Homo sapiens: one gene and its partners. The protein of the gene in region 3 interacts with the protein of the main gene of each other region in a biochemical or structural test. Each region holds a gene or a part of one and is shown on either strand. Other genes may lie near its edges.

Evidence for each region. The genes of interacting proteins can lie anywhere in the genome.
Region 1: the proteins of UBE2I (region 3) and PIAS4 form a complex in vitro, tested with the Homo sapiens proteins (4 studies listed by BioGRID).
Region 2: of the proteins of UBE2I (region 3) and TDG, one has a biochemical effect on the other in vitro, tested with the Homo sapiens proteins (3 studies listed by BioGRID).
Region 4: the proteins of UBE2I (region 3) and PIAS2 form a complex in vitro, tested with the Homo sapiens proteins (3 studies listed by BioGRID).

The regions. Positions count from the first base shown.
Region 1 is NC_000019.10:4,031,736-4,035,235, reverse strand, and holds part of PIAS4 (E3 SUMO-protein ligase PIAS4), read right to left. Parts: intron 2,137-3,500; coding exon 2,063-2,136; intron 1,817-2,062; coding exon 1,656-1,816; intron 1-1,655.
Region 2 is NC_000012.12:103,979,372-103,982,871, reverse strand, and holds part of TDG (G/T mismatch-specific thymine DNA glycosylase), read right to left. Parts: intron 3,042-3,500; coding exon 2,800-3,041; intron 2,718-2,799; exon of another isoform or gene 2,245-2,717; intron 1,980-2,244; coding exon 1,910-1,979; intron 74-1,909; coding exon 1-73. UniProt on the Homo sapiens protein: DNA glycosylase that plays a key role in active DNA demethylation: specifically recognizes and binds 5-formylcytosine (5fC) and 5-carboxylcytosine (5caC) in the context of CpG sites and mediates their excision through base-excision repair (BER) to install an unmethylated cytosine.
Region 3 is NC_000016.10:1,322,844-1,326,969, forward strand, and holds part of UBE2I (SUMO-conjugating enzyme UBC9), read left to right. Parts: exon of another isoform or gene 1-1,886; coding exon 1,887-1,950; 3' UTR 1,951-4,126. UniProt on the Homo sapiens protein: Accepts the ubiquitin-like proteins SUMO1, SUMO2, SUMO3, SUMO4 and SUMO1P1/SUMO5 from the UBLE1A-UBLE1B E1 complex and catalyzes their covalent attachment to other proteins with the help of an E3 ligase such as RANBP2, CBX4 and ZNF451.
Region 4 is NC_000018.10:46,890,008-46,893,507, forward strand, and holds part of PIAS2 (E3 SUMO-protein ligase PIAS2), read right to left. Parts: exon of another isoform or gene 3,424-3,500; intron 1,048-3,423; coding exon 573-1,047; intron 1-572. UniProt on the Homo sapiens protein: Functions as an E3-type small ubiquitin-like modifier (SUMO) ligase, stabilizing the interaction between UBE2I and the substrate, and as a SUMO-tethering factor.

The sequences.
Region 1 (3,500 bases), on a different chromosome or scaffold from region 3:
CATCACACAGGAGAGCCCTCGTCCCACTCTGGGCCACCCTTTCTGAGGCTCTCACCCAGGCCAGCCCCTCCGCCCCGCCGAGCTCTCTCTGAGGCGATGCTCGGAGCCCACCGTGCCAGGGCCGCCCCAGGCGTAGCACAGCCCTGCCTGCCCACTTCCCTGCTTGCAAAACTGCTTTTCACCCTCCAAAGCCCCACCCCACAGCTTCTCTTCCTCCTCCCCAAGACACACACAGCAACGGGAACGTTTATGTCTGGCTCTGCTCCTCTATCCGCTCCCCTGGCCAAGAACAAGACTCTGAAGGCAGGGTCTGGGACGGGGCTCTTTTGGGGACCCTGGGGTCACCCAGCTCAGAGCCAGGGACAGAGAGGTGATAGGGCTCATGGAACAAAGTATGAACCAAGGACCCCTCCTCCAGGAAGCCTCCCTGGCTACACCGAGTCCCATGGGCTGCTGAGGCCAAGGCCTGCATGGGACACAGCTGCCTGCCCCAGCCCTGGTGGCCCTGGAGCTGTGAGAGCTGCCGCCACCCCAAGCCCAAGCCCCACTCCGGGCCTGTGGGGGAAGGCGGGCACCCGGCTGCACAGCTGTCAGGCTGGGAACAGAGCAGCCATTCAGGCAGCCCACGTGCCCGGCCCAAAGGACTCCTCTCTCTACCCGAAGCTGGGATGCAAGGGGGTGGCCACCCAGCCCTCCACAGAGGGGACCCAGACTCAGGCTGGGTTCAAGTCTCAGCCTGGCCCCGTGAGCCGGGGTAGCTCCAGCTGCTGGTTGCCTCCTCTGAGCCTGTTTCCTCGTCTGTAAACTGAGGACGCTCACAGGTCTGTCTCCTGGGATGGGGACAAGTGCATGAACCGGAGGTCCACCTGGGGATGAAATCTACAACCCCAGAGGCAGGCCAGCCCTGCCTTCACCTGCACAGTCCGCTGAGGCCATGCCTGAGGGCTGGGGACCCGGCCCACCCCCACAGGCAGGGCCTGCTCCCGCCTGTGAGGGCGCCAGCTTGTGCCGCTGTGGCCTCGCGCCCTGCCGGCGGCTCTGGGGACGAGGTGGGCGCGGTCGGCGCCGGGCAGGAGCCGCATCAGGCACCACAGACAACGGGGCTCAGTTTCTGGAAACTTAAGCCCTGGGCAGAGCCTTCCACCAGGGAGAAAGGTCTTGTCCTCCTGTCCCCTGTGGCCTGGGGAATGCCTGGCCACAGCTGTGCCACCTAGGAAGGGAAGGGCATGGCGTAGCCAGAGTGCTCCAGGAGGCGCCACCTCCTTTGCCTTTCTGTGAGGAGGTCACCCCCAAGGCTGCGCGTCCTGGGGTGAACGCCGTGTGAAAGCACGACCTGGCTCAGTTTTTTGTGGCACAAACCACACTCCTGGAGCTCAGGGTCACACTTGCCTGAGGTCACGTGGGAGCGGGGTGGACCGGAGCCCACCTTCTGCAACCTAAGCTACGTGGCTGTCACCTGCATAGCAAAGGCTCTGAGAAGTTCCGCGAGAAAGAAACCGGCTCTTTTCGCAGCCCGGGGTTTCCAAAGCTCCAGGACCATGTGCCCCCACTGCTGTGTCTTGCTGGGGCACCATGTGGTCTGCAGGAAGCGGGGTGCCACCGAGACCTCCACGGATGTCCGGCTCCGGCCGCCCTCCCCGGGGCCCCGGGCTCACCCGTCGATGATGAGCTGGTCGTAGGGGGCTGGCTTGTCGCACACGGGGCACATCCAGGTGGGCTTCTTCTCGTTCATCTGCAGGTAGAAGACGGCGTCGAAGCACTGCAGGTGGGCACAGGTCTCTGCCCGGCAGGGCACGGAGAGCCGCATCTTCACCAGCTGTGGGGGAGGGGCTGCGTGAGCAGGGCACCCCTCCTGTTGTGCCCGCCTGCCCGGTGCCCCTCACCCCCAGCTCCATCCTGTGGCTCGCTCCAATCACTCATGCCTCAGGAACACGGAGGGGACGAAGACCAGCCTCGCCCCCGCAGGCTCACGGCCCAGCCAAGCCGCCCCGGGCCCAGGGCCGCCAGGGGGGAAGGCCGGCCGCAGGAGAGGCCTCGAGGAGGGGACCGCGCCCCGACTCACCGGACAGATGAGGGACACCCGCACACCGGTGGTGGCGATCTCGCTGTCAGGATCAAGGCGCAGCTTCTCCTTGACTGTGGGGAGGGAACGGAAGACACCGTCAGGAGGGTGGGAACAGCAGGGCGCGGGGCTGTGATTCGAGTTCTCTCCGGCACTGACGTCCACCTCCCAGAACAGGCCCCTGACGATGAGTCCCAAGCTTCGCTGTGTGGCTCGGGGCCGTGAGGGATTGGAGAAAGCCGGGTGGCAACCACCATTAGATTTGACCACAACCTGGGCACAGCACAGACCCAGCCGAAGCCCCCACACGGAGGTGGCCTATGTGGCCTCCCCCACCCTGCGTGGACTATGACCCATGGGACTTTTCTGGCAAGTTTCATGCAACACAGCCACCGAAAGAGTCATTGCTGTGACTTCATTCTGTCACCGAAGCACCATCCCCAAGGCCACAGCGGGGAATGAGGCAGGGACTCTTTGGGAGACGGATCCTGGGGCTTCCTGGCTGTGAGCCAGCAAGCGGCTGCCGCCCAGCCCCAGCACCGCCCCAAGGCAGCCTGCAGACAGGAGTGTAGCTGCTTCTTTAAAGGAAAAGACGGTGCCCGCCAGCAAGCTGCACGGAACATGGGGAAACATATGTGAAACATGAAGTCTTGGAGGCAGGCGCCGCCCTCCCCTCGACGGGCAGCAGGCCCACAGCCAGAAGGAAACTCACGCAGGGACCCTGGCTGCCCTCCTGAGGCTTCTGGGATGTGGCTCCATCCCAGGGTAAACTCCATCCATGGGTAGCTCAGGAGAGACCCCAGCCCTGGGCCATGGGGGGCAGGCCACCCTGGCCCACAACCCACAGGGCCTCTCCATCCACCACCTGGCCCTCAGCTGCCTGGTGGACCAGTGTTGCTTCCTCCAGGAAGCCACCTGCCCAAGTGACTTGGGGTCCAGAGTGATGGTGCCAGCCTGCCCCCCCACTCCCCCCAGCTGTCCTGACGTTCCTCCGCCTGGAAATGCCCCTACCACCCCTTATTGGCCTGAAACACCACTTATCTCTGCCCGCTTGGGAGCCACTTCCTCCTTCCTGACCCCCACCCAGACCCCCAGCCGGGGTGTGGAGCAGTGGGCTCTTCCTTCTCCCGTGGGGACGTGGTGGCAGCCACGTGCTGGCTCCCAGCAGCTCCCCTGCTTGAGCCAAGGCTGCCCCAGCCGCTCACTCCTCAGCTGAGTTTCCATCCTTGGATCCCAGCTCTGGCTACCCGGTGCCCGGGTGGACCCTCAAGCCTGGCAAAGGGGCAGCTAGGAGGGGATGCAGGTGCCCATCTGATTTTAAAGCAAACTCTCCCTCCTTTGTGTATGGAGAGACGTGCGCAGCAGGAAGGGTTCAAGTGAGGCAAAGGTGAGGACTTCCTAGGTGCAGCAAGAAAGAAATCCAGTGACAGAGAGGCTG
Region 2 (3,500 bases), on a different chromosome or scaffold from region 3:
TTCCCTGGTAGAGTGTGATCATCCATATGGTTCAGCTGGACCTCACTGAGCCCTGACATAAACAAACACTTCCCTGTAAAATGAAAATTCAGTTATTTATTTTTTTTTAGACAGGGTCTCGCTCTGTCACCCAGGCTAGAGTGTAGTGGCACGATCATGGCTCAGTGCAGCCTCGACCACCGAGGCTCAAGCAATCCTCCCACTTCAGCCTCCTGAGTGGCTGGAACCCCAGATGCACACCACCACGCCCAGCTAATTTTTGTATTGTTTGTAGACAGGGTTTCACCATGTTGCCCAGGCTGGTCTTGAATTCCTGGGCTCAAGTGATCTTCCCACCTCAGCCTCCAAAATTGCTGGGATTACAGGTGTGAGCCACAGCGCTTGGATTTAATCATCATAATTATCTTGCAAGATACTATTATTATCTCCTTTTCACAGGGGGTTGAGGCAAATGCCTGCCCAAGAATATATAGCAACTCAGTTTAGGAAACTTTGAGACTATTTTGCTTTACAATTGGTGATACCACCACCTCACACGTAAACATACAGCACTAGACTAACAACATTCAAACACCTTGACAGTGAAGAAAGTCAAAAGTCCAAACTTCCCTTAAAAAGGAATTTTTTAAAATAATAGGGACAATATGTTATTATTAGTTCCAAAACCACATTACTATCAGTTGCCCTAAATGTTTTGAATGTTACTATTAGATAATCAATTTCCTGAGCGTATACTGCATACACTGATCTATTAGGCAGTATAAAATAAGATGATTTATATACAAGACAACTTATATAGAGAAGGCAATGCAACAGTAGTTACGCTTGTTTTTTGTTTGTTTTCTTGTTTGTTTTTGTGATACAGGGTCTAGTTCTGTCACCTAGGCTGGAGTGCAGTGGAGTAATTATGGCTAACTGCAGCCTCAACCTCTCAGGCTCAAGCAATTTTCCCAACCCAGCCTCCGTAGTAGCTGGAACTACAGGTGTGCACCACAGCACTCAGCTAATTTTTTATTTATTTTTTTGTAGAAATGAGATCTTGGTATGTTGTACAGGCTAGTCTCAAACTCCTGGCCTCAAGTGATCCTCCTGCTTTGGCCTCCCAAAGTGTTGGGATTACAGGTGTGAGCCACCAGATCCAGCCAACACTTGGTTTTAAAACTTACTCTAAAAATATGAGTCTTTACTACTATTTTATGCTCTGCTAGAAAATAATCACCAGAAATCTGGGAAAGTTAGTATTATGTCTGCACTGCCACAAAGATGTACTATACTATCGTTACTATGCCTATAGATAACAACTTTTAAAAAATCATTTTTAAAAAGTAATACAACTTGGCTGGGCGTTGTAGCTCACGCCTGTAATCCCAGCACTTTGGGAGGCTGAGGTGGGCAGATCACCTGAGGCCGGGAGTTCGAGACCAGCCTGACCAACATGGAGACACCCCGTCTCTACTAAAAATACAAAATTAACCAGGCGTGGTGGTACATGCCTGTAATCCCAGCTACTAGGGAGGCTGAGGCAGGAGAATCACTTGAACCTGGGAGGTGGAGATTGTGGTGAGCCGAGATCGCGCCATTGCACTCCAGTCTGCGCAAAAAGAGCGAAACTCCATCTCAAAAAAAAAAAAAAAAAAAAAAAAAAGTAGTACAACTCATTAGAAACAATTCAAACAAAAGAGAAAGTACTCTTATTCACATCCCTCCATTCTCATAGACTAAAATGTTAACAGTAACATATCATTTCAAACTCTCTTATTTTCACGTACAGACACACACACAGAACATGAAACACGAATGTGTATTTACAGTCTCTTTCTTTTTAAAAACACAATTGGTTTTTCTGAAAAAACCTGTTAACAAAGATACCTAATTTAAAAGTAAATTAATTTAAAAGGTAACCACTTACAAAAATGGTTTCCAGGTCCAGGGTAATGATGCCCTTTGTAAGCAGCCATTAGTCCCGGGTTTATGCCAATCTATAAAACAAAACAATTAGACATTTCATCTTAAAAAGCAGGACCTAAGCCTTAGCGTTTCTATGGAGGAGTGGTGGACAAAATTGAGTTGATTAAAATACAAATTTAATTCAGCATCATAAGCAATATCATTTATCAATTACTACTCTTGATCTGAACAAAGTATTTCATATATGGGAAAGAGATTTTCTTTATTTTAAAAGTTTTGCTGTTATTTTAAAAAACCAGTTTGACTCCTTTATGATCCCAGGCCTCGCACCCTCACCAACTGGGCTGCTTTGAGTCTGGAAAGACAGGTCCTGGAACAATCAATCTGAGCCCATGTCCAGCCACAATTCTGATTCTCAACTTTCAACAAGAAGCTCGCTCCACATCACCTACACAATTGTTCACATGCTGATGTTTCTTACAGTTACTGAGAAAAATAAGAGCTTAAAATTAGTGCTGCCATGTATCAGGTCTCCACAGGCATCATTCAGTTGAAGTGATTCACATGGATTCTCTCATTTACTTGCAACCCTATCGGGGGGTGGTATTATCACCCCTGGTTTATCAATGAGAAAACCGGTGTTTAGAAAGGTTAATAAGACTTATCCAAGATTATACTTGTGACAGGATTTGAACCCAGACAGTCTAAATTTGGAGCCCACCCTCTTAAACACTCTCATATAACACAACCTCATGAAGCTGACACCATTTACCACCAAAAGGATTCTTAGAAATGGTCCTTTTCAGCAAAATGCTATTTGCAAGGACAACTGTTAAGTAAAGCTGATCCCCCAATACTACTTATAAAATCCAACGAGGACAAAGATCTTACAATGACAATGTCCAGATTGAAGGTCAAAATATCGGGGAGAGTCTTGGTCAGAAGTTCAGCTTCTGAAACACCATTAAAACGGTCTACTTTTCTTTTTACTTTAAATGTGTCTGTAATTTTTTCTTGTTTTTCTTTTGATTTTGCAGACTTGCCAGATTTTTTTGACTCAACAGGTTTTTTGGGTTCCACTGGTTGTTTTGGTTCTGTTGTTCTGGGTTTTCTTTTTCTTCCTTTTGGAGCCTCTGAAATACAAATAATTTCCAGAAATGCAGAAAATCTTAACTTAGAAACTTTAGCAGCTTTCCCAGAAAAGTTACCCAACTAGCACCTTTTGTACCTGTCTCCCCAAAATTAAGCTCTTACAGTCCCAACATGAGTCTCCTCTGCAATATCTTCCCTTTCTTTCTCCCTAGAACTGGGTTCGTGCAACCCCCCATGCCACTCTCCTTCCCCTGCTAGCTGTTCGTGGGAAGAATAATCATAGACTATTATTTTCGACACAGTATTACTTGGCATCTTAACCTCCTCAAGGATACAAAGTATCTACATATCATTTTATATAAATTCTAAATGTAAATACATAAATAATTAAATAAGAACAGAAAAATAGAGAAACAGGAAGGAAGGGAAACATTTTAACTCAACTTCCCCAGTAGAAAACCACAAATGGGCCAGGTATGGTGGCTCATGTCTGTAATCCC
Region 3 (4,126 bases):
AAAAAATTAAGCCGGGGATGATGGTGCATGCCTGTAGTCCCAGCTATTTGGGAGGCTGAGGTGGGAGGACTGCTTGAGCCCAGGTGGTTGATGCTGCAGTGAGCCAAGATTGCAGCCTGGGTGACAAAGTGAGACCCTGTCTCAAAAAAAAAAAAAAAAGCATGCCGGGCGCGGTGGCTCACGCCTGTAATCCCAGCACTTTGGGAGGCCAAGGTGGGCAGATCACGAGGTCAGGAGATTGAGACCATCCTGGCTAACACGGTGAAACCCCATCTCTAGTAAAAATAAAAAAAATTAGCCGGGCGTGGTGGCGCACACCTGTAACCCCAGCTACTCGGGAGGCTGAGGCAGGAGAATGGCTTGAACCTGGGAGGCGGAGCTTACAGTGAGCCGAGATCACGCCACTGCACTCCAGCCTGGGCAACAGAGCCAGACTCTGTCTCAAAAAAACAAAACAAAAGGCAAATGTTTTCCTGCCTAGCCCTTAGATGGTCTGCCATCCCCAGCATGGTGTGGGCGTGAGCTCTGTCTGGCCTGCACCCCATTTGCCGACCATCTCCAGAGCTGGGCTGTGGCTCCCATCTGCGGCGTGGGCTGGGCAGGGTTGCAGTCCCCCGCCCCGTGTGACTCTCCCCAGCGTCTCCTGGGCTTGGTGCCTGCTGGGCTGCACTGTACACTTGCGTGCACGTAAACAAACGTTCTTTCTCCTACACACATCCGCTTGAAAAGCACCCTTTGTGAAGCATGTGTGCGGGTTTCAGATCGTTTTTCCTGGGTTTCCTGGAGGCCTTGGACCGTGTTCCTGCCCTGGCAGGTGCCTTTTCTCGGGGCCTCTGCTTGGTCAAGGAAGAGCTGGGACGTGTAGCCACCGCCTCTGGTTCCTTCCACGCCCACCCAGCTGAGCTGCTCTGCCCTGGGGCCGGCTGGTGGCCCAAGGAGGGCGCTGGGGTCTGGGCTGCGGTCCAGGCCCTTGGCGTGGGTGGGGGTGGCACCGGCGCTGCTGCCGTCCTGGGCTGTTCCACCATGCAGAGTGAGGCTCAGTGTCTCAGACCAGGTCCAATCCTGGCGAGACTGGCAGGACTGCGACCCCAGGAGCCACCTCCATAAATGTCATGGTGTTCCCCCATCCTCAGGGTCACACTGCACCCTGTGACCCATCAGCCCCTAGGTGCAGCCTCGGCCGCCCTCCCGCCCACCTGTTTTGCCCGGGCAGTGTGTGCCATGCCACTCTCCTGGGCAGCTGCTTGCAGGCTGAGCCTCACTCTACCCAGCTCCAGACCTGTTCGCTGATGCCCCTGCACTGCCCAGCTCGGGCACAACGCCTTCTCAACCAGGCCTGCCTTCCCACACCTTTGCCCCTGCGGCTGAGAGCCTCATGGAAAAACCCTCCAGAAATTGGTGTCTATTTTTGGGAATTAACAAAAACAGTGGCAAGCAGTCAGTGTTTTCAGTTTATTAGGACTGTCCCCAGACCTACAGAAAAGAGAAGCTGCTGATTACTAGTTAGGACCAGACTTGGCATCGGCAACGATGTTGCAGGCCCTGGCGTGGGCCCTCTGGGCCTGAGCCCTCCTCGCAGCCCTGCGGGACCCCTCTGTCCCCCTTGAACACCACGTTCACCCAGCGTGGGTTCCTCTCCTCCCTGCCCTTCTGCCCCCGTCAGACCACGGGACAGTCTCAGCCACGTCAGAGCCAGCATGGGCTCCCCACCACGCAGGCCTCCCTGCTTCTCCGGGCTTCTGCTTCTGTTACTATGACGAGCTCCACACTGCCCTCCCCCAGGAGGTCCCATCCTGCAGCCTGGTCTGCCCAGCTGGCTCCGGGGCGAGCGTGAGGGCCAGGCAGCTCAGCCCTCTAACACGTCTCTTCTCTTTTGACCTCCTCAGCCAAAACAGAGTGGAGTACGAGAAAAGGGTCCGAGCACAAGCCAAGAAGTTTGCGCCCTCATAAGCAGCGACCTTGTGGCATCGTCAAAAGGAAGGGATTGGTTTGGCAAGAACTTGTTTACAACATTTTTGCAAATCTAAAGTTGCTCCATACAATGACTAGTCACCTGGGGGGGTTGGGCGGGCGCCATCTTCCATTGCCGCCGCGGGTGTGCGGTCTCGATTCGCTGAATTGCCCGTTTCCATACAGGGTCTCTTCCTTCGGTCTTTTGTATTTTTGATTGTTATGTAAAACTCGCTTTTATTTTAATATTGATGTCAGTATTTCAACTGCTGTAAAATTATAAACTTTTATACTTGGGTAAGTCCCCCAGGGGCGAGTTCCTCGCTCTGGGATGCAGGCATGCTTCTCACCGTGCAGAGCTGCACTTGGCCTCAGCTGGCTGTATGGAAATGCACCCTCCCTCCTGCCGCTCCTCTCTAGAACCTTCTAGAACCTGGGCTGTGCTGCTTTTGAGCCTCAGACCCCAGGTCAGCATCTCGGTTCTGCGCCACTTCCTTTGTGTTTATATGGCGTTTTGTCTGTGTTGCTGTTTAGAGTAAATAAACTGTTTATATAAAGGTTTTGGTTGCATTATTATCATTGAAAGTGAGAGGAGGCGGCCTCCCAGTGCCCGGCCCTCCCCACCCACCTGCAGCCCCACCGCGGGCCAGGACCAGGCTCTCCATCTGCTTCGGATGCACGCAGGCTGTGAGGCTCTGTCTTGCCCTGGATCTTTGTAAACAGGGCTGTGTACAAAGTGCTGCTGAGGTTTCTGTGCTCCCCGCATCTGCGGGCTGTAGAGCGCTGGGCAGCTAAGATCTGCATAGGTCGGGATTGGCATCGAGACCCTGGCAACTGCACCGGTGCCAGCTGTCTTGGGGGCCACAAGGCCAGGTCCAGACCAGGGCTGGGGGCTGCCTGAGGACTCCTATCCGGGCAGCCTGCTGGCGGGGGTTCCCCTCTTCAGTGGCCAGGTCACAGGGATGGAGCTGCGCTGTGCATAGGGTGCCACCTCAGGTGTCTGTCCCTTGTGTCCTCAGGAGGCAGCCTTGCTACCACCCGTGGCAAACGCCAGGTGCTTTTTCTGGGAGAGCCCACAGCCGTGGCCCTCCAGGGCTTCCCCGACCCTTAGCGCCAGGTAGAGGGCCCTGGGCAGCCTGTGTCTGGAATTCTTCGTCCTGAGGCCACCTGAGTGTGGTCTGTCCTGGGGAGGCTGTGCGCCTCAGCAGCCGTCCTGACGCTGAGCCCTCTGCAAAGGTTGGGCCGGCCAGGCCTCTTGGGGCTGCCTGAGCCACTGCAGGAAGTGGCCTGGCTGGGAAGTTGGGTGCCGGTCACCTCCCAGCAGGAAGGCACAGTGGACAGAGATGGGAAGCCCTGGGGGACACAGCCCGGTGCTCCCAGCCCTCCAACCTCTGGCTCCCAACCCAGTCTCCCCATCCTAGCGAGCTTGGCCCTCCTCAGTTTCGTTTCAAGCCTTGGGGCTGGAGCTGGCCCTGCTGCCCTGGCACCCCCCGGTGGCTGGAGCTGGGTCCCCGTGGCCCAAGTGCAGGGTCCCAAGAGGGCAGGGCGGGGCTCCCCAAAGGAGCAAAGAATGCAGGGAGGGCGGTCCAGGGCCCTGGGAAGGGGAGCTCGGCACCCTCCAGGTCCGTGTGGGACTCCAGCCGCTGTTGGCTGGGAATCGAAGTTAGAGGTGACTTCCAAAGGCCCCCCGAGCCGGCAGTGCCCCCCACCACCCCTCCAGCGACTCTGCGGTGCCAGTGCCTTGTTGGCTTTTCCGGCTACGCACCCTGCAGTCACTGAGCTCTCGGTCTGACGTCTGATGTTTGTGGTTTGTTTATAACACGGGGCCTTACCTGGGGAATTCAGCTGGTTTGAATATTTGTAGCCCGCTCCCAGAATGTCTTATTTTGTAATGACTGAACTACATTTAGTAATAGTTACACATGTATATGGTTAATACATATGGAAATTCAATATATTTTGTAGTTAACGTATTCTGAAGTAACGGATGTTTCTCGCCAATCGTAGTGACTTCAGCTAACGAAATGTTCTTTTGTAGTACCACGGTCCTCGGCCTAACGAAGGACGTGAACCTTGTAAGAGGAGAGCTCTGAAACGCGGTCACCTTTGTTTAGTGGAAGGGAAAGTGTGTTCCCGGCATGAGGTGCCTCGGAATTAGTAAAGAATTGTGGGCAAT
Region 4 (3,500 bases), on a different chromosome or scaffold from region 3:
TTAAAAGGAAAGAAATTCTAACATAAACTACAGCATGCTAGAACCTTGAGGACATTACATTTAGTGAAATAAGCCAGTCACAAGACAAATACTGTATGATTCCAACGACATGAGGTACTTGGAATAGTCAAAATCATAGACAGTGGAAGTAGAATGGTAACTGCCAGGGGCTAGTGGGAGAGGAGGAGAGGAAGGCTATTGTTTAATGGGTACAGAGTTTCAGCTTCAGAAGATGAAAAGAGTTCTGGAGATGGATGGCAGTGATGGCTGCACAACATTACCAACATACTTAACACCACTCAACTGTACACTTTAAAATGATCAAGATGATACATTTTATATTATGTGTATTTTACAATAAAAGAATTGGAGAAGAAGAAAGATCAAATGATATGAAATAAAGCTTCTATTAGATTTCAGTCATGGTTGCCGAATTTTTATCCGTATATTCAAACATTCGGCATTGATGCCTCAATTTCACTATATTAACAGCACATCATTAATCAATAGTTGAAGGTCTCTCATTTCATTTACTATCTTGTTCAGAAGAAACTGAATTCTCAAACACTTACCTAAACTCGTGGGCTTGATGAGAACATCAAGGACATCATAAAAGGGCAGATTTTTTAACTGCACATCAGGATGGACAGGAGGAATTGGGGGAGATGGCTGCTGCATCTCAAATGTGGGCTTAGTATCTTGAAGCAGCACAGAACCAACAGGAGAGGATGGTGAGTGAGGTGTAACTGAAGTGGAAGGCAACGAGTGGATTCCAGCCACGGCCAAGTCAGGTTCTACAGGTGATGAGCCACCATCCAAACTGAAAACCGATGATTTGATTGTGGATAAATCAGAAAGTCCTTCAAGAGTTCGTGGATATCGGCGTCTATACAATTCTCGGATTTTAATCTGAACCGCAGGGCTGCAGCCGCTCTTCAATAAATGCAGCGCCCTCATCAGGAGGTCATGCTTGCGTCCACTTTTATTCCGTCCAGCAAAGCCTAGTAATACTTGTAGTTCAGAAACCCTAAAACTAGAAACCATATTCTAAAAGGAAAGAAAAAAAAACATAAGCCAAGTCACCCTCAAGCATACAAAAATCCTATCTAAAATATAATGTAAAATGTGATTTTTCCAGCATTCTATCAATTGGCATGTGCTAGTAACAGCATTTCACATACCACTTAGAATCATTACCATTCATAAGACAATCCCGTAAAAATTACATTCAAGTTACGGTGTTAATTATATTTTGTTGTACAAGATCTTAATTTTGGTAATCTATAGTCTATTGGTTTCTACTAACCACTTCATTATCTGATTATGCTCTAATGCAAACAGTTATTTGCTTTATGACTATAAAATCTATCACCAATGAATATACTCCTTTTCAAAACCAACCCCTCCCAATATACAATGTAATGTTTGTTACAGAATTATCGCCAATTAACCAAACAAAAAATCAGATTTTCACAATGTTAGATGTGTAACTTTTGATGCTGAGTAGTAAATCCATAAAAATCAAGTCAGAACTGTGATCCAAAATGCAATGAATTTTTTACCCCAATTCAAACATTAACAAACAAACAACATAATAAAGATATTTTAAAATATTAAAGCTAAAAAATCACATACATCTTATTTAGCAGTCAAACTTCTAAAACAACTGAAATTCCCAGCTGGGTATCCAAATGAGAAAAAGACCTTTGAAGAGCAAGGAAATGAGCAGTCATCAATCTTAAAGGGCAACATTTCCTCCACACTACTCTACTGGCTTGTGCTTGGGCGTAAAACAAAGGTTATAAGCAGTTGCAGCTTCACATCACACCTTCTATTTTTTCAGCAAAACTTAATGAATATTTTTAACCCCTTGCAGCCTCAGGAATCCACCTACTTAGTGATTTCCAGTCAATTCTGAACTCAGAGGCAAATCACACTTGGGTCAGATACCACACATGCATCATCTAGCAAGAAAGAGGAAGAACACCTGGAGCTGACCAAAGCCCTGTCAGAAACCTACCCAGGAGAACTACCTGTGGTTTGGTGTCCCATCCCATCCTCATCACTCCCCCAACCCAGCCCGTGCTACACACTCCACAGTCACTTGGGATTCCTTTTCAACCTGCTTGTCTCATCAGTATAGTGGAAATGTGGGGCAGTTGCTCTGTACTTTTTAAGTCTCAGGGACGGCCCAGAAGCAACTGTTTAAAACCCTATATGGTTTTTAAATACTTGTTGGTATAAATACTTGCTAGTTTACTAAAATGCAAACAGATTTAAATATGCCAAAGTAATCCATATACACTGTCATAACTGTACTTTGTGTACTATATATGTCTCTATATTTCATAATGTACAAGTGAGAGAATATTAAATTGTAATCCTGGCAAGCCATTTTATACTCTAATTCAGTGCTGTCCAACACAAATTAATAGAAGACACACATTAAACCTCCTAGTAGTCACATTAAAAAAACTAATTTAGGCCAGGAACAGTGGCTCACACCTATAATCCCAGTGCTTTTGGAGGCCAACACAAGAGGATCACTTGAGCCCAGGAGTTCGAGACCACACTGGACAACATACTAACACCCCGTCTCCACAAAAATTTAAAAATTAGCCAGCCATGGTGGTGTGTGTGCCTGTGGTCCAAGCCACTCAGGAGACTGAGGCGAGAGGATCACTTGAGCCCAGGAATTTGAGGCTACAGTGAACTGTGATCACACCACCATATTCCAGCCTAGGCAATATTAAGACTGTCTCAAAAATAATAATAATAATAATGATAATTTACATTAACATAGTTATTTAACCCAATATATCAAAACTATCTTTTCATCTCAACATGCAATCAATTTTTGTAATTTAAAAATAATCATTTTTTAAAGTGTCAGTGGGATTTTTTTTATACTAAGTCTTCAATATCTGGTGTATATTTTACACTTACAATACATCTAAATTTGGACTAACCACATTTCAAGTGCTTAAGAGCCACATGTGGCCACTAGCTACCACACTGTGGTAGCTCTAAATCATACTCTAATAGAACACATACCACAATGTGTGTTACCTCTACAGTGCAGACAACAAAGAAGGAAAACAAGAAAACTTTTGGCCTATCTCATAACAAACCAGTCACAGCTTACTCAACATCTCATGCATTAAACAGAAGACAACAGCTTCTTGGGAAGGGTTTACCCAAGCAAGTAATACGATGCATCTTTCCCTCAATCTTAGTAAATACTTCAATTGATTGTGGAACACTAATACTAAAAAAGGCAATCACACAGATAAAACATAACTGATTTTTTCTAACTCAGAATTCACTACTTTGCTTCACTCCTTATACTTATTGTCAGATATTCTTCATTTTAAGGGAAGCTATTTTACAGAAATGACAAAACAAAGCACAAAGTCATCCTACCTAAGCTTGACTCTCAGAGGAATTTCTAGGAGGTCTCATATCTCATATTTCCAGTGATAACATTATTTGGCAAAGGA